Homo sapiens: one gene and its partners. The protein of the gene in region 1 purifies or fractionates together with the protein of each later gene. This does not show direct contact. Each region holds a gene or a part of one and is shown in the gene's direction. Other genes may lie near its edges. The genes, in order: MLNR, CDC42BPA, XPO4, ITPRIP, ACAD10, CDYL and BTAF1.

The links.
Region 2: the proteins of MLNR (region 1) and CDC42BPA purify together in Homo sapiens (affinity purification with mass spectrometry; one large-scale study listed by BioGRID and IntAct). This does not show direct contact.
Region 3: the proteins of MLNR (region 1) and XPO4 purify together in Homo sapiens (affinity purification with mass spectrometry; one large-scale study listed by BioGRID and IntAct). This does not show direct contact.
Region 4: the proteins of MLNR (region 1) and ITPRIP purify together in Homo sapiens (affinity purification with mass spectrometry; one large-scale study listed by BioGRID and IntAct). This does not show direct contact.
Region 5: the proteins of MLNR (region 1) and ACAD10 purify together in Homo sapiens (affinity purification with mass spectrometry; one large-scale study listed by BioGRID and IntAct). This does not show direct contact.
Region 6: the proteins of MLNR (region 1) and CDYL purify together in Homo sapiens (affinity purification with mass spectrometry; one large-scale study listed by BioGRID and IntAct). This does not show direct contact.
Region 7: the proteins of MLNR (region 1) and BTAF1 purify together in Homo sapiens (affinity purification with mass spectrometry; one large-scale study listed by BioGRID and IntAct). This does not show direct contact.

The regions. Positions count from the first base shown.
Region 1 is NC_000013.11:49,218,841-49,222,877, forward strand, and holds MLNR (motilin receptor), read left to right. Parts: upstream 1-1,497; coding exon 1,498-2,398; intron 2,399-3,199; coding exon 3,200-3,537; downstream 3,538-4,037. UniProt on the Homo sapiens protein: Receptor for motilin.
Region 2 is NC_000001.11:226,989,365-226,993,492, reverse strand, and holds the end of CDC42BPA (serine/threonine-protein kinase MRCK alpha), read left to right. Parts: 3' UTR 1-3,628; downstream 3,629-4,128. UniProt on the Homo sapiens protein: Serine/threonine-protein kinase which is an important downstream effector of CDC42 and plays a role in the regulation of cytoskeleton reorganization and cell migration. Regulates actin cytoskeletal reorganization via phosphorylation of PPP1R12C and MYL9/MLC2.
Region 3 is NC_000013.11:20,794,747-20,798,246, reverse strand, and holds part of XPO4 (exportin-4), read left to right. Parts: intron 1-1,189; coding exon 1,190-1,483; intron 1,484-1,990; coding exon 1,991-2,171; intron 2,172-3,500. UniProt on the Homo sapiens protein: Mediates the nuclear export of proteins (cargos), such as EIF5A, SMAD3 and isoform M2 of PKM (PKM2). In the nucleus binds cooperatively to its cargo and to the GTPase Ran in its active GTP-bound form.
Region 4 is NC_000010.11:104,309,200-104,311,832, reverse strand, and holds the end of ITPRIP (inositol 1,4,5-trisphosphate receptor-interacting protein precursor), read left to right. Parts: 3' UTR 1-2,133; downstream 2,134-2,633. UniProt on the Homo sapiens protein: Enhances Ca(2+)-mediated inhibition of inositol 1,4,5-triphosphate receptor (ITPR) Ca(2+) release.
Region 5 is NC_000012.12:111,692,553-111,696,052, forward strand, and holds part of ACAD10 (acyl-CoA dehydrogenase family member 10), read left to right. Parts: intron 1-144; 5' UTR 145-157; coding exon 158-344; intron 345-3,500.
Region 6 is NC_000006.12:4,891,404-4,894,903, forward strand, and holds part of CDYL (chromodomain Y-like protein), read left to right. Parts: intron 1-309; coding exon 310-976; intron 977-982; exon of another isoform or gene 983-3,500.
Region 7 is NC_000010.11:91,930,270-91,933,769, forward strand, and holds part of BTAF1 (TATA-binding protein-associated factor 172), read left to right. Parts: intron 1-1,112; exon of another isoform or gene 1,113-1,251; intron 1,252-3,500. UniProt on the Homo sapiens protein: Regulates transcription in association with TATA binding protein (TBP). Removes TBP from the TATA box in an ATP-dependent manner.

The DNA.
Region 1 (4,037 bases):
AGGTCCAGAATCGAGACTCCAGAGAAGAGGTTGAGGATTTAAGCCACTGAGGGGGTGGAGCTGGGCAGTGAGTAGGACGTCAGGCTTGCAAGCTCTGGGATTAGGCCGACCAGAGCCCATATCCCAGTCCCGCCTCTTACTGCCTGCTTGATCTCAAGCAAGACCGCTTTGTTCATGGGCGAAAGGAGCGCCCCGGGCCATGAGGATTAAATGGAGAGCACAGGGCCAGATCCATCTAAATTCTCAGTAAGTGTTAGCTATTGTTATTAAGACCACACCGAACAGACTGAACATCCGTTTTAGCCCCTTTCCCCAATTTTCGTTCTTTCCGGTGTTGACAAATCCTCTAGTTTTTTAAGTTTATAAAACATGTTGTACATAAGAATGACATATCACATGTGAAAGTACTCTAGTGTCCACGTAAATATTTGTCTTGTTCTTTATAATAAGTAAACATGCTCACGGATCCTTGAAATTATCTGGTCACTGCCGGGCGCGGTGGCTCACGCCTGTAATCCCAGCACTTTGGGAGGTCGAGGCGGGTGGACCACCTGGGGTCAGGAGTTCGAGACCAGGCTGGCCAACATGGCGAAACCCTGACTACACAAAAAACACAAAATTTAGCCGGGGCTTGGGCGCTCCTGTGCTCCCAGCTACTCAGGAGGCTGAGGTGGGAGGACTGCTTGAGCCTGGGAGGTCGAGGCTGCAGTGAGCTGTGATCGCGCCACTTAAACTCCAGCCTGGACGACAGTGAGACCCTGTCTCAAGAAGAAAAAAAGAAAGAAAGAAAGAAAAAAAGAAAAAAAAGAAATTATTTGGTCAATTATATGGTCAGCTCCCTCCACCACTCGCGAATTTACAGAAGAGGAGAACTGGGCTGGGCGAGACCAGGACTAGCCCAAGATTACACAAGTTACTCGGTTGTAGAGCCAGGATTAGACAGGAGAGGCTCTAGATTCTGGTCTAGACTCCCCTCCTATTATTTAGCATTATGGCTTCCTGAGGATTACCATGAGCCCTCCTCCACCGTCAAGCGGCAGCTACCAGCCACCAGACCAGATCCCTTCGAAGGTGCCCGGAGTACCAGACTGACAAAAGCGCCCGTACAGTGCTCAGTCCTGTAACCAAAGCTGTCTAGGGTGCAGACATCGCTCACCGGACCGGGTAGGGCTCGTGCGCTAAGGGCGCCGGGTATTCCAGTTAGTGGAGAGGGAAGCGCCCTGGAACTGCATGGGCCCGGGAGAGGGCGCGGGAGCGGAGCAGGGCCGGGCCGGGGCGGGCCGCGGCCGTGGGCGGAGACTGCGCGCAGCTAGCTCGGGAGCGCCTCGGAGCCCACCCCGCAGAGCCGCTTCTCGCGCCCCGCAGCGCAGCGCAGCGCTCCGCCGTCTGACCTGCCGCGCCCGCAGCGTGCGGGCTGGGAAAGGAGGCGCTCACCGAGAGGGACCACGCGCCAGGCTCCCAGCCCGACCCGGGACGCGGCGGCCGCGCGGAGCACCCATGGGCAGCCCCTGGAACGGCAGCGACGGCCCCGAGGGGGCGCGGGAGCCGCCGTGGCCCGCGCTGCCGCCTTGCGACGAGCGCCGCTGCTCGCCCTTTCCCCTGGGGGCGCTGGTGCCGGTGACCGCTGTGTGCCTGTGCCTGTTCGTCGTCGGGGTGAGCGGCAACGTGGTGACCGTGATGCTGATCGGGCGCTACCGGGACATGCGGACCACCACCAACTTGTACCTGGGCAGCATGGCCGTGTCCGACCTACTCATCCTGCTCGGGCTGCCGTTCGACCTGTACCGCCTCTGGCGCTCGCGGCCCTGGGTGTTCGGGCCGCTGCTCTGCCGCCTGTCCCTCTACGTGGGCGAGGGCTGCACCTACGCCACGCTGCTGCACATGACCGCGCTCAGCGTCGAGCGCTACCTGGCCATCTGCCGCCCGCTCCGCGCCCGCGTCTTGGTCACCCGGCGCCGCGTCCGCGCGCTCATCGCTGTGCTCTGGGCCGTGGCGCTGCTCTCTGCCGGTCCCTTCTTGTTCCTGGTGGGCGTCGAGCAGGACCCCGGCATCTCCGTAGTCCCGGGCCTCAATGGCACCGCGCGGATCGCCTCCTCGCCTCTCGCCTCGTCGCCGCCTCTCTGGCTCTCGCGGGCGCCACCGCCGTCCCCGCCGTCGGGGCCCGAGACCGCGGAGGCCGCGGCGCTGTTCAGCCGCGAATGCCGGCCGAGCCCCGCGCAGCTGGGCGCGCTGCGTGTCATGCTGTGGGTCACCACCGCCTACTTCTTCCTGCCCTTTCTGTGCCTCAGCATCCTCTACGGGCTCATCGGGCGGGAGCTGTGGAGCAGCCGGCGGCCGCTGCGAGGCCCGGCCGCCTCGGGGCGGGAGAGAGGCCACCGGCAGACCGTCCGCGTCCTGCGTAAGTGGAGCCGCCGTGGTTCCAAAGACGCCTGCCTGCAGTCCGCCCCGCCGGGGACCGCGCAAACGCTGGGTCCCCTTCCCCTGCTCGCCCAGCTCTGGGCGCCGCTTCCAGCTCCCTTTCCTATTTCGATTCCAGCCTCCACCCGCCGGTACTTCCCATCCCCCGAGAAAACCATGTCCTGTCCCCCAGGAGCTCTGGGGGACCCCAGGGCGCTTTGAGGGTGGGATCCCCGGATCCGATTCAGTAACCAGCAGTGCTTTTCCAGAGCCTCTGAGACCAGAAAGGAGAGTTGGTAATTCTTAATCCAACCACCTGTTAGATGCCACAGATGAGGAGTCCTCACAGTGCTCTTGAGAAGACGAGGGAGATTTCATTAAGCTAAAATTTTTTATTTAATGTTAAGTGATGCTGAAGGCTAAAGTAAACCTTGCTCGTATCAAAAAGTAAAGATTGTGCAGACCTGTTGTAGAATTCTTTTCAACAGAGAACAGAAAACTTGTCTCCGAAGTGGGTTTGTGGAAGGAAGCCTGCCAAGGCGGCTTGTTCAGAGAAATTGCTCCTTCTGGTTTATGTCCAGCCTTGATAACACATATGGGAGCCTACTATGCAGTTTTAAAGCAAGTATCCATGCAGCCTGCAGCCTGGTCATTTTTTCTGGGGTGAGGATCTGCCTAGGTAGAAGTTTTCTCTAATTTATTTTGCTGTTACTTGTTATTGCAGATGGTTCCTTGTCGGGGTGGGGGGTTTATTTGCTTCCCAATGCTTTTGTTAATCCCGGTGCTGTGTCTTATGTTGCAGTGGTGGTGGTTCTGGCATTTATAATTTGCTGGTTGCCCTTCCACGTTGGCAGAATCATTTACATAAACACGGAAGATTCGCGGATGATGTACTTCTCTCAGTACTTTAACATCGTCGCTCTGCAACTTTTCTATCTGAGCGCATCTATCAACCCAATCCTCTACAACCTCATTTCAAAGAAGTACAGAGCGGCGGCCTTTAAACTGCTGCTCGCAAGGAAGTCCAGGCCGAGAGGCTTCCACAGAAGCAGGGACACTGCGGGGGAAGTTGCAGGGGACACTGGAGGAGACACGGTGGGCTACACCGAGACAAGCGCTAACGTGAAGACGATGGGATAACCAGCACGGCCAAGCCAGGCTCCTCTTGCAGTTCTAAGACTTTGGGGAAAACAGGTGTGTAGAGAAATAAAGACTGCAAATGAGGAACAGATCCTGTTAAGAAGAATGGAAAGAGGGTTGCAGTTGTGCCAGTTGGTTAAGAAATAGACCGCATGATTTATTTAACCAAGGTATGAAATGTAACTGCGCCAACCTTTCTAGTTTCCTTCCCACGTACCTCCTAAGGAAGGTCGATTTTACCATCATGAAATCCCACATCTCAAAGTGTGCTCTTGTGTGATGGTTTCATGAAGTCCTCATTCTCCTACTCTTCGGAAAGATGATTGTTCATTTTACAGTTAAATGATACACAAAGATGCTGCCCCAAAACTGCCACCTCTGAGATCATGAGTGTATTTTATGTTTTGGATGTAAATGTAACAGTACATCTACAAGGAACCAGGATAATGATAGTTTTGATCCAAGAAATGATTTAATACCTATGTATGGCTGCAAAAACT
Region 2 (4,128 bases), on another chromosome or scaffold:
GGGGAGCTGTAGAAAACACTTGCAGAGCCAGGTTTTGCTGGTTTGGGGCATGCCCTGGGCACCAGAGCTTTAACATTTGAAGCCACTTCAGCAGCAGCAGCAAAAGGCGAACTCATCTCTACCCAAGATGTTTCTTTTCCTAGTGGTGGAATTTGAACACTTCTCACTTTTTATTGTATTTTATCTTCCGCAGATAAATGTAGAAATACACGATTCTGTCACCTCTGATCCCTTCCATCTGAAAGGTTACAAGGAGTGTTGTAGCTTCTGAAGGTGCAGAAAACAATTTCTAAAAATGCTTTTATTCCTGGGCTAATCCTGTCCCTCCCTAAGTCACAGCGAGGTGTCTGTCCCAGGGCTGGAGATGCTTCCCAAGGAGGAGTCTGTTTTGTTGAGAGTGGGCGTGGGCTTCTTCACATAAGCCTGGGGAAGGAAGAAAAAACGGCTTTCATTACCAAATAATGTAAAACCTCAAAAGCAAGGGCTTCAACAGCCTTAACCAAATATTATTCCCCATAGCCAGTGGAAAATGGATGTGACAACCCCAGTGCGCAGGCCAGAGTGAGTGAGCCCAGCACGGCGCTCCGACTGGCTTCCTCTCTCAGGTGCTGGATTGTGGGGTTAGTGGCATTTCCAGCTGGATTCCTCCTGTTGTAGTTGCCATAAGGAAATGAGATGCAGAATCAGAAGGATCTATTTCTACAGAATCATTTCACCAGTTAAGCACATGAGTAGAGAAAGAGATAAAAATAAAAGTATCTCATGAAGGAAAGAGATTTTGCCTCTCTTTTACTTTTCACCTAAGTTTCTCTGAGAAATAGAGACAGGATTCTCTCTTTAAAATTCAGTGAAAATGAAGAAAGTTTTCCTGCAGTTGCTAACCTGAGTTGCAGTGTTTAAGGCCATCATTTCACTGCTGCTGTCTGTGACTCCACGTCTGTGTCACTGAGGTGACCTGCGTGTCACTGAGGTGGCCACCATGCTGGCCTGCGGCATGTGCAGGGAGCTGAGGCTGTTTCCAGGTGATGCTGCTGTGTGGAGAAGGTTCTGAGATGCAGTGAGGGAAGAAAGGATCCTGCTGGGGATTCCATTGTAAGCACCTATAATCGGGAATTTTCATGTAACAGCTTTGACATTTAAACATTCTGAGTTTGGTGCCAGCTCAGATTTGATTATATTTTATTTTGGATGGGTGTAATTCACAGCACAGTTCTAATCTCCCAAATCTTTCTGCTTTTTAGAATGAAGTATAAAAATACTTTTCTCACCTGAATACCAAGGGTTGGCCCTTTAGTTGGATCATTGTCATATGACTTGGTAGATCCTTGTCCTCAGCACCTCACGTGAGAGAAGGGAGTCAGCCAGCCGGCCCCCTGCTTGGTGCTCGTGACCAGCTCGCACCCCTTCTGTCCACCCTTCTCTCCTCTCCTCCCCACTCTCCCCACCCTCCTCACTCTCCCCACCCTCCTCACTCTCCCCACCCTCCCCTCCTCTCCTCCTCACTCTTCCCACCCTCCCCATCCCCACCCTCCCCATCCTCCTCTTCCCTTTCCCCTTGCCTTCTCCTCTCTCCCTTCTCTTCTCAGGCAGGGAGGAGGCCATCCCAAGCCGAGATTAACAGGACTTGACATAAGCCATTAGTTTGTAGCTTTGACAAGTAATTATGAATTTTTGTTGCTTATAGGTGCTTATTTTGCAAAGGATGCTTTTAAGATCAAAATAATAACCCTACCTAAAGTCTAGCTCCACTGCTATGGGTCATACTCTTCAGCCTCCCAACAGGGCAGAGAGAGAGAGCTACTGAGGCTTGTCTAGGTTGCCAGGCTAACTGGGCGACTTGTCCATATTCACCCCATGGATTGCACCATGGCACTCTTTGATTTTTCCACTGCAATGGCAAGTAATCTCATCAGTCATAATAGAGCAGTCCCGAATGCGTGCAGATTCTAAAAGCAGGGCTTTAGGAGAGAAACACTGCCAGGGGGAATAGTTTTGGGGAGGGTTTTCCCAAAATAACGGTCATCCTACTGGGTTTATCCCACCCTTAAATATGAAGCCTGTTACCTCCAGAAGCTTCTGAGAAGAATGATGTGAAAAGACAGGGAGTGGGTTCTAGGCAAAGAAAACATAATGACCATTCAGAGGAGTCAGTAGCACAGCTCACAGATAAAGTATTTTATTACTATCTGAAGTTTTCTTTTGTTTTCATGCAGGACATTTTAAAAACGTATATGGCAGCAGAAACCTGTTTCTCAATAGAAAAAATACATTCAGAGGCATTTCTGGGATAGTCTATCTGTGTTAGTATTTGGTGCTATCTATGTCCAGCCAAGTTATCTACCCTCAAATTCTGACTAATCATGTTTGTGCTTTGGGTATTTAAAATTACATACATATATATTCTTTTTGCCAAAAACAAAAGTCTTGCTTCTTGTCAAATGATTGCTAAAGTAGATCTTACATTTTTTGTTATTATGTATGTATTTATACACATCCCCAACACACTTAGTGATTTCTGTTATTTCCTAGGGAGCACAGCTTTAAGGCTATGAGATACAACTAAAAGGAGCCCATCTATTTGGTTTTCCAGCCAATTATTGTACTCACATTTCAGGGGAGAATCTGAAATTCCTGTCATGTTTACAGCAACAATCTATCATTCCTGGCTAGCTCTCAGCCTCTCTCTCCTTCCATAGGTTAGAATTATGTCATTTTGTTACTTAGTGGCCACGTCTATTTCTGAGAAAGACTGGTTACATTTATGTGGCATCTCAGGTATCATTAAGGAAAAGCCAGAGCAGGGGTGAGCAGAGGTCAAAACCACAGACGCAGCAGGGCCATTTGCCGCCTTTGGCCGGGATCACAACCACTGCAGTCTCCCAGCAGGTAGGCCTTGCCAAGCCTAAGGCTCCCCATCCAATCTAGACAGAGGGGCGCTCAGAGCAGACTTTGCCGTAGCCCATGTCTGGTGAGCACAACAGGGAATGAATTGGGCACTCCACTCCCCCGTCTCTCTGGCCCAGCCCTGAACTAGATGAGCTGCATTTCATGGAGCCCATTTTAAAATCTCTTTCCTTATGACTTTGTTACTCAAGTCCAGAGTTCTCTGTGCACTTCTGCTAGATAAGGAGTGTAAGCCCTGCCCCCCAGCACTGGCAGCACGCTGGGCCCTCCCCACACAGGACACCGTGCAGTTCCGGGGGAAGCTGACTCAAATCAACCTTGAAATCTCATGAAAACAAAATGACTTGTCTTTTTATTTGATAGTGTAATATCATTCATTTTATAAATTTTTTAGGGTTTTTCTCGTAATATTGTACAGTTTTGCATGGCCTGGTGTGATCATTTTTTGGTTAGAATATAATGCTGACAAATGTGGATGGAGGGGAAGATACTGCTTTAGCCTATCACTCCTTATTTTATTTTGTTTGGTTTTATGCCCTCAGTGTCTTAGGGAACTTTTTAAGAGATCCTCTGCTACCAAACAATGATGTGGATTCTTTTGCACAGAAATATTTAAGGTGGGATGGTAAAAAATGTCACAAAAGACTCCTCACCAATACTTTATGTTGATATCACTTAATATTAACCAGACTTTGCTGTATTGCAATAAAACAGAGAACTGTTAGCATTGAGTATTTTGTCTCTTTTCCCCCCACTTGAAAGTCTGAGAAATAGAGAAAGGTGCCACCTCTCCGCCTGTCACTTCTCTTCTTTCTGCTGGCCTCCTTCCTCATCCAGGCTGCTTCTTTATGCCGTAAAAGGACATGGGGTTAGTTTGCCCCTGTGGTTTAATCTAGGACTTTCTTAATTTCTTCCTTAGCTCGGGTAAGAATGATGTTCAATTCTCCTGAAGCTTTCAACTCCCCTCTTCTGGCCAGAACTTCGCTGTTGCTGTTACTTCGGTCCACAAGACCAAACCCTGGCTGCGTGAGGTTTCCTGAGTGGCCCTGACAGTGTGAATGTGGGAGCAGTTTGATTTTGTGTCACTTAAACAAGACGGACTGTTACTGCTTTTCTGGAGTTAGAATGGTTCATCTAAGAACATACAGGGAAGGTCCAGGGGTGGGGTTAAAGGAACTCCTGAACTGGTGGCAGCTAAGTAGTTATTCGGAGAATACTTCCGGT
Region 3 (3,500 bases), about 28 Mb from region 1:
TTCCCCTTTCTATATCAGTTATATTGAACTAGGGGCCCACCCTATTCCGGTATGACCTCATCTGAACTAATTACATCTATGACAACCCTATTTTCTTTTTTTTTGAGACGGAGTCTTGCTCTGTCACTCAGGCTGGAGTGCAGTGGTGTGATCTTGGCTCACTGCAACCTCCACCTCCTGGGTCAAGCGACTCTCCTGTCTCAGCCTCCTAAGTAGGTGGGATTACAGGTGCGCACCACCATGCCTGGCTAATTTTTGTATTTTTAGTAGAGACGGGGTTTTGCCATGTTGGCCAGGCTGGTCTCCTGACCTCAAGTGATCCGCCCACCTCAGCCTTCCAAAACGTTGGGATTACAGGTGTGAGCCACTGCATCCGGCCAACTCTATTATCAAATAAGTTCATATCCTGGGGTTTGGATTTCCACATATGAGTTTTTGAGGAACACAGTTTGACCCATAACAACAACCATGGGCACATTATTTAATAGGCTTTAAATCAAGGGCCAAGAGTTGCCAGTGTGTGTAGGTTGCCAGCCTGCAGTCCTTGTCTAGAGGGCCCTTAGTGTTTGAGAAGGGGCACAGTAATGGAATTAGGCAGTTGTTTGTGACTTCAAATCCAGGGGAAACCAGACTGACTAAGTATTTTTATTTTAAACAATTGTATTATCATATGGACAACTTAAAGTCGAATTAAGATACTGTCCTCTTGAATATGAGTACTCTTATATACAGGGCAGGACTGATTATCTGAAGTTACGTTCTGTGCCAAGAGGAATTAGGTAAAGGAAAAAGGAAAAAAACAGACAAGAACTTTGAATTGGGCTTCACTCTGTAGAGGTCGGCAAGCTGCAGCCCATGGGCCAAATGTGGCTTACTGTCTGATTTTGTAAACAAAGTTTTTTTTCCTTTTTGACTCATTACTTGGAAAGAGATGGAGGGAAATGGCAGAATTCTTTGAATGGCAGGGAGACAGTTATGTCCCATGCTTTGGGTGTTCTGGCTTTACATGAGCGGAAAGTTAGGATGACCCTCAAAATGGGGAGTGTAAAGTCTGGTTTAGATATTCTTTGTTATGTGCTTGTCCTGCCTCCAACAATTAGAAATGTTTTGGAAAGTGAATATGTATCCAAGCAGAGGAAATAAAGCATGAGAACTGAGCTTTAAGAAAATTCCTGGTTTATTTTTATAGGTTCTTCAGCCACTTCAGCAGCGATTCTTAAGAGTGATAAACCAAGAAAACTTCCAGCAGATGTGTCAGCAAGAGGAAGTCAAGCAGGAAATCACTGCCACACTAGAGGCCCTGTGTGGCATTGCTGAGGCTACCCAGATTGACAACGTAGCAATCCTGTTTAATTTTTTAATGGACTTCCTTACCAATTGCATTGGATTGATGGAAGTTTACAAGAATACCCCAGAGACTGTCAATCTCATTATAGAAGTTTTTGTTGAAGTTGCACATAAACAGATATGCTATCTTGGAGAGGTAAGCACTTTCTAATTTTATCCCCTCAGGATTAAAACTCTTTGAAGCTGTAATAAAATAATAGATCTTTGCTTAAAATTTGATTAGTATTATCTTAAATAATATTTTTATTCCTTCAAAAGATTTTTAAAAAAGATTTTTGAAAAGAACTTATAATTTAGAGAAAGTCATGTTGAATGAATGTAAATTTTTTTTTTAATTTCTTCTAAAAGGAAACAGGATACATATACAGAACGTTCAGATTTGTTACATAGGTATATGTATGCCATGGTGGTTTGCTGCACCTGAATATAAATTCTTGTCCTAAAATTTTGTTAGAAAAGGGGTAAAATTAAAAAAAATATACTCTTAATATATGCTTTCTAGAAATTATTGTTTTAATGTAGTTTAAAGCAAGAATTATTGCTACTGTTGGAATTCGGAGTTAATTTATATAGATTATATTTTAAAATTTTTTTAATGTCAGTGTACCAAGTAGCATAATTTGTGCATTTTTTTTTTTTTCAGTCCAAAGCTATGAACTTATATGAAGCCTGCCTTACTTTGTTGCAAGTGTATTCTAAGAATAATTTAGGGCGGCAAAGAATAGATGTTACAGCAGAAGAAGAGCAATACCAAGACCTGCTTCTCATTATGGAACTTCTTACTAACCTGCTGTCAAAAGAATTCATAGATTTCAGTGATACAGGTAAAATGTAACGTGATGGTTTTTAAACTTTGTTGTTATCCTCCTTTTTATTAAATCAAAGGATTGTTTTCTGTAAGAGACATCTCATGAGGAAATTCAATTTATGGAATAAATGAAAGAAGATCTTTGTGGTCAAAGTGAGGGTGAGGACCAGTGGCCCTCCTGCTTGCCTTTCCTCTTGTAAGAATAATAGAAATAGTATCTCTCATTCATTGAGATCTTACTAAATGCCATGCACTGTTCTTACCTCTCACAATGGTATGAAGTCAATCCCATTGTTATTCTCACTTTATAGATGAGGAAACAGAAGCACAGAGAGCTTAAGTCACTTGGCCACAGATACTTAGCCAGGACTGGGATTCAAATCCCAGCCTGTGACTCCAGATGCCAGTCTCTTCAGAGTTACACTTCCTGACTAATCACTTCTCCATGTTCCTCACGGTGGCCACCCCAGAAACCCTAGCACTTTCCAGAGTGTGGCTTGGAAAGCCCTGTTGGTGTAGGAAGCACTCTCTCTGGAGTTAACAGCCCACACTTTGAAGACCTAGCCTAGTGTCTCACCTACAGTATGATGTGAGGGGAGTTGATTAGCCTACCTGTGTCTTTACTAGCTGGTCAAATGGGTATGATAATAAATACCTTTCAGTGTGTTTGAAGGATCAGCTGTAAAGTGTCTTTGGTGCCTAGCATTGTGTCTGACAATCAGTAGGTAAAAGATAGTTGCTGTTACAGGCAAGAACCTGATCAGTAATTTAAACCTCATATATGTGTATAGTTTTCAGTGCTGTAGAGTTCACTCCCCTCCTATCTCACTGCCAACCTTGACTTCAAACAAAATGGATCCTGTTTCATGACAGAAAAATGAATCATATCTAGCCTCTCCTATTATATGTTGTGCAGACACGTGTGGTAGTGGACATTTTTGGCTTCTTCCTTGTAAGATTCTCTTTCTAAGTTGGGTGCTATAATATCCACTTGACTTATTTATCCCAATCCTTGAGATTGTTCTGTTTCCTTAATTTTTTCGTATTCCTTATTCACTGGACCATGTCTTTTTTTTTTTTTTTTAAATTCTTGGGCAACGGTTTTTCCAATATCTGCCCTGAGCTAGGTACCATCAACTTCACAGTGTAGAAGGTTTACTCTTTATTTTTTTTGCAGTTAACTAGGGGTACCAAGGTGAGATAGTCTGAAAAGCACTGTACAAATTCACTTTTCCTCAGTGAATTCTTTCTGGTCTGTTTTTAGGCCCAGCCTTTCACCCAAGTTTTCTAACTTTCTTCAGGTCAGTTCTGCTTAATCCAGGAGTTCTTAACTTTTTCTTTCTTT
Region 4 (2,633 bases), on another chromosome or scaffold:
ACAGGAAGCTTTTGGGTTTTAAAGAAAGAGATTGTATTTTAAATAGAGGATTTTGAGTCCTCTAGGGGACTTTGGCCTTTCCACTAAGGACAACCCTGCCCTCTTTCCCCAGAGTCTCTTTCCCAAGGATGCTTGACTTTCCCCAGCAACTGCTCACTTGCTTTGCAAAATAACAAGGGTGAAATGAATAGAGTTGGCCCCTAGGCCAAGAGGCTGGTTATGTTGGGGAAGGGCCTTATATCCTCAAAAGCTCTAGCCCCTCTGCATGCCTGGCTGAAGCACAGCCCCCGTTGAGAACCTGGGGGTGGAGCTCTGGTTCATCATCAAGGGTGTCATCCGAATCACCCAGACAACCTGGTCCATTGCCCCGACCCCGCCTTGAACCTACATGGTGCTCAGAATCCAGTCTGGAGTGGTCAGGCTAGGCTCGATTTTTAAAGATTTCCCCCAAGTGACTGATGGTACCCCTAGCTGAGGAAGCCCTCTCACTTTCTTTCTTAATGGAAAGTTAAAGAAAACCCAAGTGGACTACTTTCCCTACAGATCTATTGGAAGATAGATAGACCTGGGAAAAGCCAATGAGCCTGCTTGGAATCTGTGGTCTAAGTGGCATCAGCTACACCACAAGCTTCTCATGAGGGCACCCACATTCACGCTAGTGCCGTAAGCCTCAGAGAGAGGGTGGGAAGGCATAAGATGGTGAGCCCTTCTCCCAAGCAGGTCATGAATAGTCCACAAGCATTTGTCAGGAGCCTAACGTGCATGAGACATTGTGGAAGATGGGAAAATGAATAGGACCAAGCCTGTTCCCTAGGAGAGGCAGCAGAAGGTGGCCTTCCAAGTACTGAGCTATTCCAAGTGTGACCCTGCACTACACATACGGGTGTCACCTGGGGGCAGCTTCCTGGGCCGTGTCACAGACTCCAGTGGGATCCTGAGAAGTTAGGTAGAAGAATCTGCACTTCACCAAGTTCCCCACCTGATTCTGGATGTCCAAGAACCACTGGTACCTGGGCTGATTAGGGAAGGCCTCATGGTGGGGCGCTGCCAGATAGAGACTCTGAAAAATGACCAGGACTGTGGCCAGGAAAGACATTCCAGCCAGAAGCATGGAGTGAGGGTGGGAAGCACCTACTGTATGGCAGGCACCGTTCCGCACACACATTTGTTAATGCACACAGTTCCATGTCAGTCCTATGATGTAGGTGCTATTCTTATCCTCCCTGCTTTCCAGATAAGGAAACAGGCACTGAAGGGGCAACTGACTTACCTACTGTCACAGTGGTAAGTAGCACAGCCCAGATTCCAACCCAGGCAGTCCTGGTGTACATGTTGGCATATACTGAGAAGTCGTAGCAAATGAGGTTGAAAAGATAAGAGTGGGGCTGAACCATGCAAAGCCTTGAATGCTAATACAAGGTAAATTTGGACCTCACAACAAGCAGAGGTGGGCCATTGGCGGGTTTTGAGTGAGACAGTAACTTGATTCACCCCCAAACTAAGGAGTCCTTATCTATGTGATCAGTGCCATCCATGTCCTGTGCTGTAGGGTACATGGCCGGCTTCCCGAGCAGGGTTGGTGGCAGCTGGCAGTGGTTGGTGAATGTCCAGGAAGTCTTAACTCAAGCCACCCCAAGGCTGTGATTCAGAACATTTTCGTGGTCCGTCTCATCTCCACCTCACGGGACAGAGCTGGAAGGCTGTTTGGTTTGGCCAGCGACCGAAAGCAGAGGGAGCCAAGAGTCACAGAGTGAAGGGCAATGTGTGCCTTCAACAGGGCCCTCCCTCTCCGCCCCACTCTGCCTTGCCCCACCCCTGTCCCTGGGAAGGGCATCTTTTAGAGTTAACTTTTCTCATTGCCATCCAAAAATAGCTTGCTTGTTTAACTAGTTTGTTGTTTAAAAAATAAACATAAAAGCAATAATACAGTCATAATTTTAAAATTCAAGTACTAACAGGAAAATTAAGTAACAGACTAACGGTCCCACTTCTGACTTCTTAGTCCACTCCCCAGAGATAACCAATATGAAGTTTTTGGTGTATCCTTCCAAAATTTTTCTGTGTATGTGTCACATGTATGTATATATATATGCATCCTTTTAGTCCTTTTTTACATAAATGGCATCATACCGACTAATTCTTCTTGGTTATCTTTTTGAACATTTGGCTCTACCTTATTCTTTAAACTAGCTGCTTACTGGCCGAGTACATTAGCTCACACCTATAATCCCAGCACTTTGGGAGGCCAAGGCAGGAAAATCGCTTGAGCCCAGGAGTTTGAGACCAGCCTGGGCAACATGGCAAACCTTGTCTCTACAAAAAATATATAAATTAGCCAGACATGGTGGCGTGTACCTCTAATCCCAGCTACTCCGGAGGCTGGGGTGGGAGGATTGCTTGTGCCTGGGAGGCAGAGGCTGCAGCGAGCCGTGATCACTCCACTGCACTCCAGCCTGGGTGACAGAGTGAGTAAGACCCTGTCTCAAAAAAAAAAAAAAAAAATATATATATATATATATATATATATGGCTGCTTACTATCTCACTGTCTGTATGCATGTACCATAATTTACCCAACTTTCCCTACTGAGGAACACTTAAGTTGTCTCCACTTTTTGCTGTTATAAACAACAC
Region 5 (3,500 bases), on another chromosome or scaffold:
CACTGAGGTCAGTTGTGGGTGTGATTCGAAGTGCCTGTTGGAGATGGGTTAGAGATGTCTGGCTGGCCCCTCTGAGCTCCAGGATGGAGGCCTGGTTGGGAGGCAGTGCAGGCAAGTAACGCCCTGTGCCTTCTTCCCACACAGCCTCAGCCTCACCATGTGTGTCAGGAGCTGTTTCCAGTCCCCCCGTCTCCAGTGGGTGTGGAGAACAGCCTTCCTGAAACACACCCAGCGCAGGCACCAGGGGTCCCACCGATGGACACACCTTGGAGGCAGCACCTACAGAGCGGTGATTTTCGACATGGGCGGAGTTCTCATTCCTTCTCCAGGGAGAGTCGCTGCAGGTGAGCTATTGATTCTGTTTCACTTTGTGGGACTAGAGTGGTGGTGGGAGAATGGAGGGTGATCGGGAAGGCAGAGGGGAACACTTGGGCAGCAGTGTGTCCCAGCAGGCCATGCTCTGGCTCTCGAGTCGAATTCCAAGCACCACTAGGGGGCTGAGTGTCTTGGGCGCATGATTCAGCTTCTCCAAATCTTACTTTCCTCATCATTAAATGAGCTAATGGTAGTGCCTTCCTCCTTGGGATTTGGCGGAGAGTTATCCGTGGGAAGCACTTGCTTAGCACAGTGATTGCTCAGTGCATCCTAAATTCTCAATCAATGATGAGCTGCCATGAATGCTGTGATTAGAATTTAACCACCAAGGCAGGGCACAGTGGCTGAAGCCTGTAATCCCAGCACTTTTGGAGGCCGAGGTGAGAGGGTCGTTTGAGCCCAGGAGTTCAAGACCAGCCTGAGCAACATAGTGAGACCCCGTATCTGCAGAAATTTAAAAATTATCTGGGCATGATGACAGGCACCTGTAGTTCTAGCTACTCAGGAGGCTGAGGTCGGAGGATCACATGAATCCAGGTGGTTGAGGCTGTAGTCAGCCGTGATCATGCCACTGCACTCCAGCCTGGGTAACAGAGCAAGACCCTTACTCAAAAACAAACAACCAAAAATCCCAAAGAATTTAACCACTTCTTCTTGGGAACTGTTCTACTTCTGAAATCTAGAATGCTGAAATTCCCCTTTTGATTACAGCCTTCCTCCCTTCTACCCCACTCCCTCTAAACCTGCTTCTGGACTGACAGGGTAAGGGTCAGCCCTCTGGTCTCTGGTCTTCTCTTTACCAGCCCCTTCCTGGTTTTACTTCTTTTCTACTCAGTTCAGTTTTTATTAGTTAAAGTCGTTTTGGCTTCAAGCAGTAGAAAACCTAACAAAACAGTGACTGAAACAAGCTAGAAGTTTCTTTCTCTTGCACATAAAAGCCCAGGTATGTGGTCTGGGGCACTGTGTGATGCGACTCTGTGGTATCAGGGACTCCGACTCTTTATAGCATGTTGCTCTGCTGTGACTTTTCATTTCCACTCTTACATTGTGGTCTGTCTTGGCTGTGTCGCCTCCTGCTATCATATTCTCATGCCAGCCAGCAGGAAGGACAAAGGGCCAGGCAGCCATCCCTCTCCTTTTGACCTTCTGTGGTGGCTGGTTGGCCAGTTCTCCATCCTAAATCAACCCAGGCACAGGTTTTCTATGCCTGCGTGTCTAGGCTTTCCAGCACTGCTGACCAAATTACTCAGCCGTGCTAACTGGCTGCACAAGCTGGTTTCTGAGCTCCAGCCTCAGTTGGGCCATTGGTGCTACGCCTGAGCCTCTCTGTTCCTTCACTCTTATCTCTCTGTTCCTTCACTCGTATCTCTGTCATGTTTACCTCAGGGGCTGTTCCAGACTGTCCACTCCCCCTGCTCCTTACCACCCCCAAATATTCTTGCTCTGCAGATAGCTGAATCTGTTCTTCTACAAAGAACATAAAGACTAAACCTGAGCAACACAGTGAGACCCTATGGTGAGCTAGGATTGCACCACTGCACCCCAGACTGGCACAACAGTCTTTTTTAGAGAACCTGTCTCTAAAAAAAAAGGCAGCAGGGAAGAACATAAAGATCACTGGACAGAAAGTTTCTTGACTTTCTCTAGAATATCTTAAGAACCAATTCACTTCTCTCCATTGCCACTGCCTCCACCCTTGCCTTCTCTCACCCAAATGATGTCATCAGCCTCCTAACTTCCTCTGCCTCTGGCTCTCTGGATTTTACAAAATCTCCTCCCAGCTCCAGAATTAACCTTTCTAAAACATGGATCGTGCTTCTGCGCTTAGCAGCTCACACCTGTAATCTCAGCAATTTAGGAGGCCGAGGTGGGCAGATCGCTTGAGCACAGGAGTTCAAGACCAGCCTGGCCAACCTGGTGAAACCTTGTCTCTACGAAAAATACAAAAAGCGTACCTGGGCATGGTGGTGCATGGATGTAGTCCCAGCTACTTGAGGGGCTGCGGTGGGAGGAACTCTTTAGCCTGGGCGATTGAGGCTGCAGTGAGCTGAGATTGCACCACTGCACTCCAGCCTGGGTGACAAAGTGAGACCCTGTCACAAAATAATAAATAAAATAAAAATAAAGCATAGATCTTGTTCCTTTCATCCCTGGCTTGAAAATCTTGAATGCCTGCATGTGGTCCCCTAGATTAAGTCTAGAAGCTTTCACCTGGGATTCAGGGCTCCTCTCAGTTTTAGCTTTCCTGCTATGGACTACCTGATGCTCCCCAGGCATGCCAGGCACATTTGCATGTTTGTGCCTTTGCAAGCTGTGTTTCCTCCCTGCCTCCTCTGCCTGTTCAAATCCTACTGATGCTTTTAATGGCAAATTTAAGGGGATATTATTCAGCAATGACTGGAATCTTTTGAACACTCAGTAAATCTCATGGTTGTTACTAACTTCAAGAGTCCTCTTCTGTCAAGACTTCTCCAACCTCATTTGCAACCTGGGCAGAATGTTCCTGGATAGCCAATTCCCATTAAGTTTCACCTTCACCGAGATATTTTTGTTTGCAGTGGGATATGTTCATGTCTCCTCTATGGGGCTCTTGGATTCCAGGACCCCAGGTCTGGGATTTCTTCACTTCACTGTTGCAGTGTTAGCTCTGCAGGCTGGCTCAGTCATTCAGGAAATGTTTGATGGGTAAATGTGAACAAAATAGTGATGCCTTCTACTTTGTCTTTTGCTTGACTGGAGCTTCTAATGTTATTTATTTCAAATGAACCATATCAAGGGTCATTTGATAAGAATATACTAGAATTGGCCAGGTGCGGTGGCTCATGCCTTTAATCTCAGCACTTTGGGAGGACGAGATGGGCGGATCACTTGAGGTCATGAGTTTGAGACCAGCCTGGCCAACATGGCAAAATCCAATCTCTACTAAAAATTCAAAAATAAGCGGGGCATGGTGATGGGCACCTGAAATTGCAGCTACTCTGGAGGCTGAGCAGGGAGAACCACTTGAACCCGGGAAACAGAGGTTGCAGTGAGCTGAGATCATACCATTGCGCTGCAGCTTGGGAGACAGAGCAAGACTCTGTCTCAAAAAAAAAAAAAGTATATATATATATACACTAGAATTA
Region 6 (3,500 bases), on another chromosome or scaffold:
GTGGAAACCAACTCGGTGGTCAGGCTTCAACACAGAAATAGCAGAGAGCCCCTTTCAGTCACAAGAAACATAAGTCACCTAATGCATATCCACACGTTCTCAGCATAAAAATTTAGCATCTTGTTTGACTTACTTTCAGGGAAATTGTCCACAACCCAAATGGCCTATTACTATTTTATTGAGGTTGCAGAAGAGATCATTTTATCATCTATTGTGGTTTTTGCTATTTTTGATGTTTCCTAATGAAACTTGCACTTTTCCCCCCAAATTTTGATTTTTTTAAAACTATTTTTTTCCTTTTATGAACAGGTTGAAAGGATTGTTGACAAAAGGAAAAATAAAAAAGGGAAGACAGAGTATTTGGTTCGGTGGAAAGGCTATGACAGCGAGGACGACACTTGGGAGCCGGAACAGCACCTCGTGAACTGTGAGGAATACATCCACGACTTCAACAGACGCCACACGGAGAAGCAGAAGGAGAGCACATTGACCAGAACAAACAGGACCTCTCCCAACAATGCTAGGAAACAAATCTCCAGATCCACCAACAGCAACTTTTCTAAGACCTCTCCTAAGGCACTCGTGATTGGGAAAGACCACGAATCCAAAAACAGCCAGCTGTTTGCTGCCAGCCAGAAGTTCAGGAAGAACACAGCTCCATCTCTCTCCAGCCGGAAGAACATGGACCTAGCGAAGTCAGGTATCAAGATCCTCGTGCCTAAAAGCCCCGTTAAGAGCAGGACCGCAGTGGACGGCTTTCAGAGCGAGAGCCCTGAGAAACTGGACCCCGTCGAGCAGGGTCAGGAGGACACAGTGGCACCCGAAGTGGCAGCGGAAAAGCCGGTCGGAGCTTTATTGGGCCCCGGTGCCGAGAGGGCCAGGATGGGGAGCAGGCCCAGGATACACCCACTAGTGCCTCAGGTGCCCGGCCCTGTGACTGCAGCCATGGCCACAGGCTTAGCTGTTAACGGGAAAGGTGAGTGTCTAGGGAGCTGCTCAGGCTCCGTGGTGATCCCAGAGGGCTCGGGTCCTTCTCTAGAGATCAGGCCTTGAGCTGGGCAGAGTCCGGGGCTTCTCACGGCATCTGCTGGAGCCTTGCAGAGATTTCGCCTTCTCCTTTCTTCGCTGGAAGCCTTTGATATTTCTCTTAATTCGGCAACTAGTTTTTTCTGTGTAATTCGCCATCCACAGACTGTGCTACCACACTGACTTGCTTTAAACAGTATCTCCCTCTAACTAGGTTATTAGGTGATAAGTTTTTACAGCAAGTTTCTGAAGCTGTCTACCTTTCTTCACCTCTGAAGTGCTGAGTCTTGTCTCGTGTTAAGCGTTTTCTTCTAAGTGTGGCCAGCATTGATACAGAAGTGCAGGTTCTTATTTTGCTCATCTGTGTGAATACCCAGGAATGCCTTTCAGTGGGAGCGTTGCTAACCCAGCAGAGCCTTTGGGAGCCGGGCTCGTTTCTCTGTTGTGATCGGCAGTGCAGGTGCCATTGCTTCCCCCGTCAGAGCCCAGTCTGCCTGGCACCGGTGGTGTCCTCTGTTTTACTCTCATCCCCAGCCCCGCTCCTGGGTTCTGCAGCTGCCTTGGTTGTGCCATGACCTGTCCATCTCCCAGGACAGCACAACTGGGAGTTCACATGGGTGGCTTCCTTCTCCTCACTTGCCACACTGTGCCGGCCACAGTTTTCTCTTACGAGGCCTCATGACTTCTCACCTGCTGGAGCTTTCTAATAGGGCTTCCTGCTTCCTGCCTTCTGACAGCTCCCATCCCTTTTCAGTCATTCTTGGACGAGGGTGGTGTCCACTGGTGCCCCCACCCCATTGCCTTCAGTAGCAGGTGTGCCCTGTGTGTCTGCGACCTGGCGCTCCGCTGCCCTCTGGCTCGCTCTCTCTGTCAGCACCAGGGCCGCACGTGGTCCCTTCCTCTCCATCTGCTCAGGGGCCCCCACCACCTGGCCCTCTCCTCTCTCTCCCTTCTGAGTTGTAGTCTTAAAATTGTCTCTTTAGCCGGGCGTGGTGGCTCATGCCTGTAGTCTCAACACTTTGGGAGGCCGAGGAGGGCAGATCGCTTGAGGTCAGGAGTTCGAGACCAGCCTGGCCAACATGGTGAAACCCCGTCTCTACTAAAAATACAAAAATTAGCCAGGCGCGGTGGCGCGCACCTGTAATCCCGGCTGCTCAGGAGGGTGAGGCACAAGAATCGCTTGAACCCAGGAAGCAGAGGTTGCAGTGAGCCGAGATGGTGCCATTGCACTCCAGCCAGGGTGACAGAGTGAGACTCCGTCTCCCAAAAAAAAAAAAAAAAGAGACTCCGTCTCTTTACCTGTGTGTGTCTCCTCCAACCCAAGCTCAGTAGAATAATAGCAAACAAAATACAATGGTGTTGGTTTGTTTGGGGAGCTACTTTCCTCTAAAGCGAAGTGTTCACTAAGACATTCTAACCGTCCTGCTTTGGTGCATTCAACAGGTTTTCTCCTCGGCCCAGGCCCTTGTGTAGCAAAAAAGTGGAATATGAACTGAAATCTGGGGTCTCCCTTTGACAGGAAATTGCCATCTTGCCAATGTTTTTCAGATACACACTTGACCCAAACGGTGCCTTTTCCGGCTTCATTGGAGCTTGTGAACTTGTTTGCAGGTTTGACTTCCTATATTGTTTGACCTCATGGATACAGTTTTCTCTTACTTAGTTGTATGTGAGGGATCAGAGAAGTTCAGAGGTAGAAGGGACTCACTTAATAGCACGCTCTATTTTGCAGTTAGGGAAGTCGAGTCCAGAGAGAAGATGATGTTCATGGAGAGAACCGAAGCCAGAAGGGGAACCAGAGCGCGTGCCTTAGTGCCTCCCTGGCGTTCTTCCCAGCATTGCTTGTTGCCTCCTGGACAGATAAGCACCTCCGTCTTCATTGATGACTTGGGGGCCAGGCACGGTGCTGGACTGTAGTGCTACCAAAAAGGACTGATGAGCTATAGTCCGTGGGCTTGGCCCTGCCCTGCTCCTGGTTTTGTATGACCTGCAAGCTCAGAATGGATTTTACATTTCCTGATTTTGGAAAAAGAAAAAAATCGGGAGGAATATTTACTAACGTGAAAATATAAGAAATTAAGATTTCTGTGTTCACACATAAAGTTTTCTTGGAACACAGCTAACCATCCATTACTATGAATGAATGGAGCTATCCATTCATTTACTTCCACCACCAATCCCGGCTAATTTTTGTATTTTTAGTAGAGACAGGGTTTCACCACGTTGGCCAGGCTGGTCTCAAACTCCTGACCTCAAGTGATCCACCTGCCTTGGCCTCCCAAAATGCTGGATTACAGGCGTGAGCCACTGCATCTGACCTACTTGGCTCTTTACAGAGAGGATACCTGATCTCTGCTCTTAGGAGGCCATAGATCTGTGAGCCCCCTTTTTTGTCCACAAAAGTCGTGTGTGTGTGTGTGTGTGTGTATATGTGTATATACACACATGTGTATGTGTGTGTATATATACACACG
Region 7 (3,500 bases), on another chromosome or scaffold:
GTTCGATCAGGGATGGAGGGTAGAAAAAAATGTCTTGAAGGAAATAGCATAGCTTGGTTGTACATTTTCACCATTCTTCATTTAACCAATATTTACTGAGTGCTTTCTATGTTATAGGTGCTAGAGGTATAGCAGAGAAAAAAACTGTACTCTCCATTCTCATGGAGTTTATGGTCCAGGGTAGAGTGGGGTAACTTATCTAGCAAGCACCTGCCCTTACACCTGGCTTTGGTATGGTTTCACACCTTCATATTGATTCTTAGTGTTCTGTGTGATATCTTTATGTTTAAAACAACATAACATTAACATAGTTTCAAATTACCCACAACATGACCTAGAAAGTATATGTTTAAAAACACTAGAGAATTTGTTGGAAGTTGTTTCTTTTGACCTTAATGATAATATGTGCACTGTACTAAGTTCCACGTATTAAGTACACACTGTACACTATACTAAGTAATGGTCATTATCTTTCCTTACTTCCTGAGTAACACAGAAAAGTAAACATTCAAATCATCTATATTTAAAATTTTACTGTACTTTTGCCACGTGTAAAAAATGTATAACTAAATGGCTACTCTTGACTGGTCATGCTTTTTTAGTTAAGGCCACAAAGCTGTCTTTTTGAGGTATTCTGTCAGTTGACCTTTCCTAATTTATCAGAGAGGTTAAATATATTTTGAAAATATCAGTGAGGCTTTTTGCCCCTCCCCTCCCGAGATGTTTTAGAGTGGAAATACAGTATGTATTTGTTTATTAACTATGACGTAGTAATCTAGGACATGTTTTATTGTTTAAAATGCATGACATTTCTTTCTGTTTATTTTTATGGCTTTACTGTTATGAATTAACATAATGCAAACATCTGGAGAGGAGAGGGGTTAGATTGCAACTGCTAGCATAACCTCTACTACTATGTACTCTTTCCTTTTTCTAGGCAGTCTTTAGAACAGTTGCCTGAAATCACAGGTTACATGAATCATATCTTGTTTAGCTAATTCTCGGAATTGACATCCAGATTGAAAATGGGCCAGATTTCTTATTCTCAATAAATTTATAACCAGTGGATATTACAAAATATAATTTTCTTATGTTTTACTTATCTTCTATAGTCTTTGGTACCTTCCATGCAACTTGACATCTGTTACCTGTGTCTCCTCCATCTGTCTGTCTATCCTTCAGAGAATGAAGAATGTTACTTTTTCCTGCTAGCTGTGTGCAACAGAAGTTTTAGCCAAAAGTAGTATGGGAGTAAGTACTGTGTTCCCTCAGTCAGCCCTCCTTTTAACTTTCCCTTCTCTTCTGACCATCTAGCTTCCTTCAGACCTCTCCCTCACCAAGGGCCCTGTCTACCCTCCAACATAATACTGACTCTGTCTCACGTTCTTTTCCTCTTCCCCACAAGTTCACTGTACCAGCCTTTTCCACCGTGGCCTGGCCCTGATGCTTACCCTGCTTGCCTCATAGCTGGCTATCCTGAGATAACAGGTCAGACTGCCCTCTTGTCAGATCTTTGTCTGCTCATCTCTTTGTTCTTCCTTTTATGTGGTGTCCAATCTGCTGTCCTGAAGAGAGGAATGGAGAACTACGAAAGTGGCTTTAAATCAAGAGAATCAAAGAAGCATTCTTGTGTCTCCATTCCTCTATTCAGGGAGGCAATTTTGGTTACCATCCAAAGTGGAAGAAGTAAGGATAAACAGGCTTGGAATGGATGAGAGAATGAGCTGATCTGCTACCCTCAGGGCATTTGGCTGGTGGGAGAGCAGAGGTGACCTGACATAGCATTGGGATAAAAGGATCTGCAAAAAGGAGAATCAAGAGGAACTGTGTGTCTGTGGGACAGTATCAGCAATTAGGTTAGAGAGGAGTCTAAGGTCTTTGGGCAGGAGTTCTAAGTGAAGCTGGGTAGCAGAGGACCAAAGGAAAAGTTTAAGAAGGATGGAAATTATTGAAGGAATACAGTGCCTATTGCATGGCATTTTTCAGCTTGCTATTTGGGACAAGCGTAACTGCCTCATTCAGAAGGCTGAAGTACTGCTGTGCTGATCTTTTCAGTTACTGAAACATTACATTACCAACTGATTTTTTATGTAAAACTGCTGTCACAGATTAAGGATGTTTCTCAAAGGAAGCAGGAAAAAAAAAGGTAATATAAAATATTTTTTCTTTCCTTAAAGTTGGTTCTTAAACTTGTCCCCAAGAAACTTGAACTTTTCCTTAAGTATAGTTTTAGTTACAGTAAATGTCAACTACATAACAAATATTTGAATACTGTGCAAAGTGTTGTGCGAGACAAAAAGAATGATTGAAGGAGATGAAGCCTAATGAGGAAAATTAGACCTCATGTGACAAATTAATGTGAGAGATGCCACAAAAAAATATAATAAATACTTAAGTAGCTGTTCAAGATGAGAATTCATGTGGATTTCAGAAAAGGAAGTAATCTCTGTTGCATAGTAGTTTGAAATGGTTTCAAGAAGGTGAAGAACTTCAGCTGAATCCTGTTGGATGGGAGCTAGCTGAACAGTTGAACAAAGAGAAAAATACTTTATTTGTTTGCTGTAGCACATTTTATTCTCTTGTTAGAGAAGCAAGCTCAGGCACACCCGAAGATCACCTCTAGTGGTGTATCTGGTTAAATTCCAGGTGATATACCCATATTCTCAGCTGTGCCTCCCACCAACAGTTCCCAGTCTCACACATGGGGCCATTATATCTGCACAGCTGCCTGCTGTTGCAGTGAGGCAGAGTACATACCCACTGCAACCCCAACCAGTGACCATTCTGGGGATCTGGCAGAAACTGGCCAGGAAACCACCCCCTTGAGGAGGGGTGAGCCACTGTAACCCTAGCTTGAAGGGGTGTGAGAGACATTCTGAGTGGAGGAAACAGTATAGGTAAAATTGTGGAAACCAAAAATACCCACATTTGGGAGATACTTTTTGTTTTGGATTACTTTCTGGTAGGTAAGTGTGAGCCATTGAAAGTTTTAAAGTAAGGTAGTGATTTATTCGGGGGCGTTTTAGGAAGTTAATCTGGCAACAGGATGACAAGGCAGTTGGGAGTGTGAAACTGGCACTCTCAGATGGCCTGGATTTGGGGAATATTTGTTCTGGATATAATTTAAACAAATAACAGTATACAGTTTCCTCAGGGAGAAACTGATGAGAGTTGAGCAGTCAAGGATTGAATATGAGTATTCTCCCGATATTCATATTAAGAGTATTAAGAATAGGAGAACTAAGGAAAGAAGAGTTTGGAGAACAGGGTAATATAATGTGCAACTTAGGAAGGAAAGTATTGTAAGAATGGGGTGCTTGCTGGTCGCAGCTGTCAAAGAAGAGTCAAGAAAAATTGACCTTGTAAAAAACTATTGGATTTGGAGCCTAAGAGTTCATTGGTGACCTTCAGGTGTGGTATTTTGGTGTAGAAAGATGGAACCTTGATTTATATGGATTAAATTGTGTATGATGAGGAAATAATATTTTAAACACTTGTTC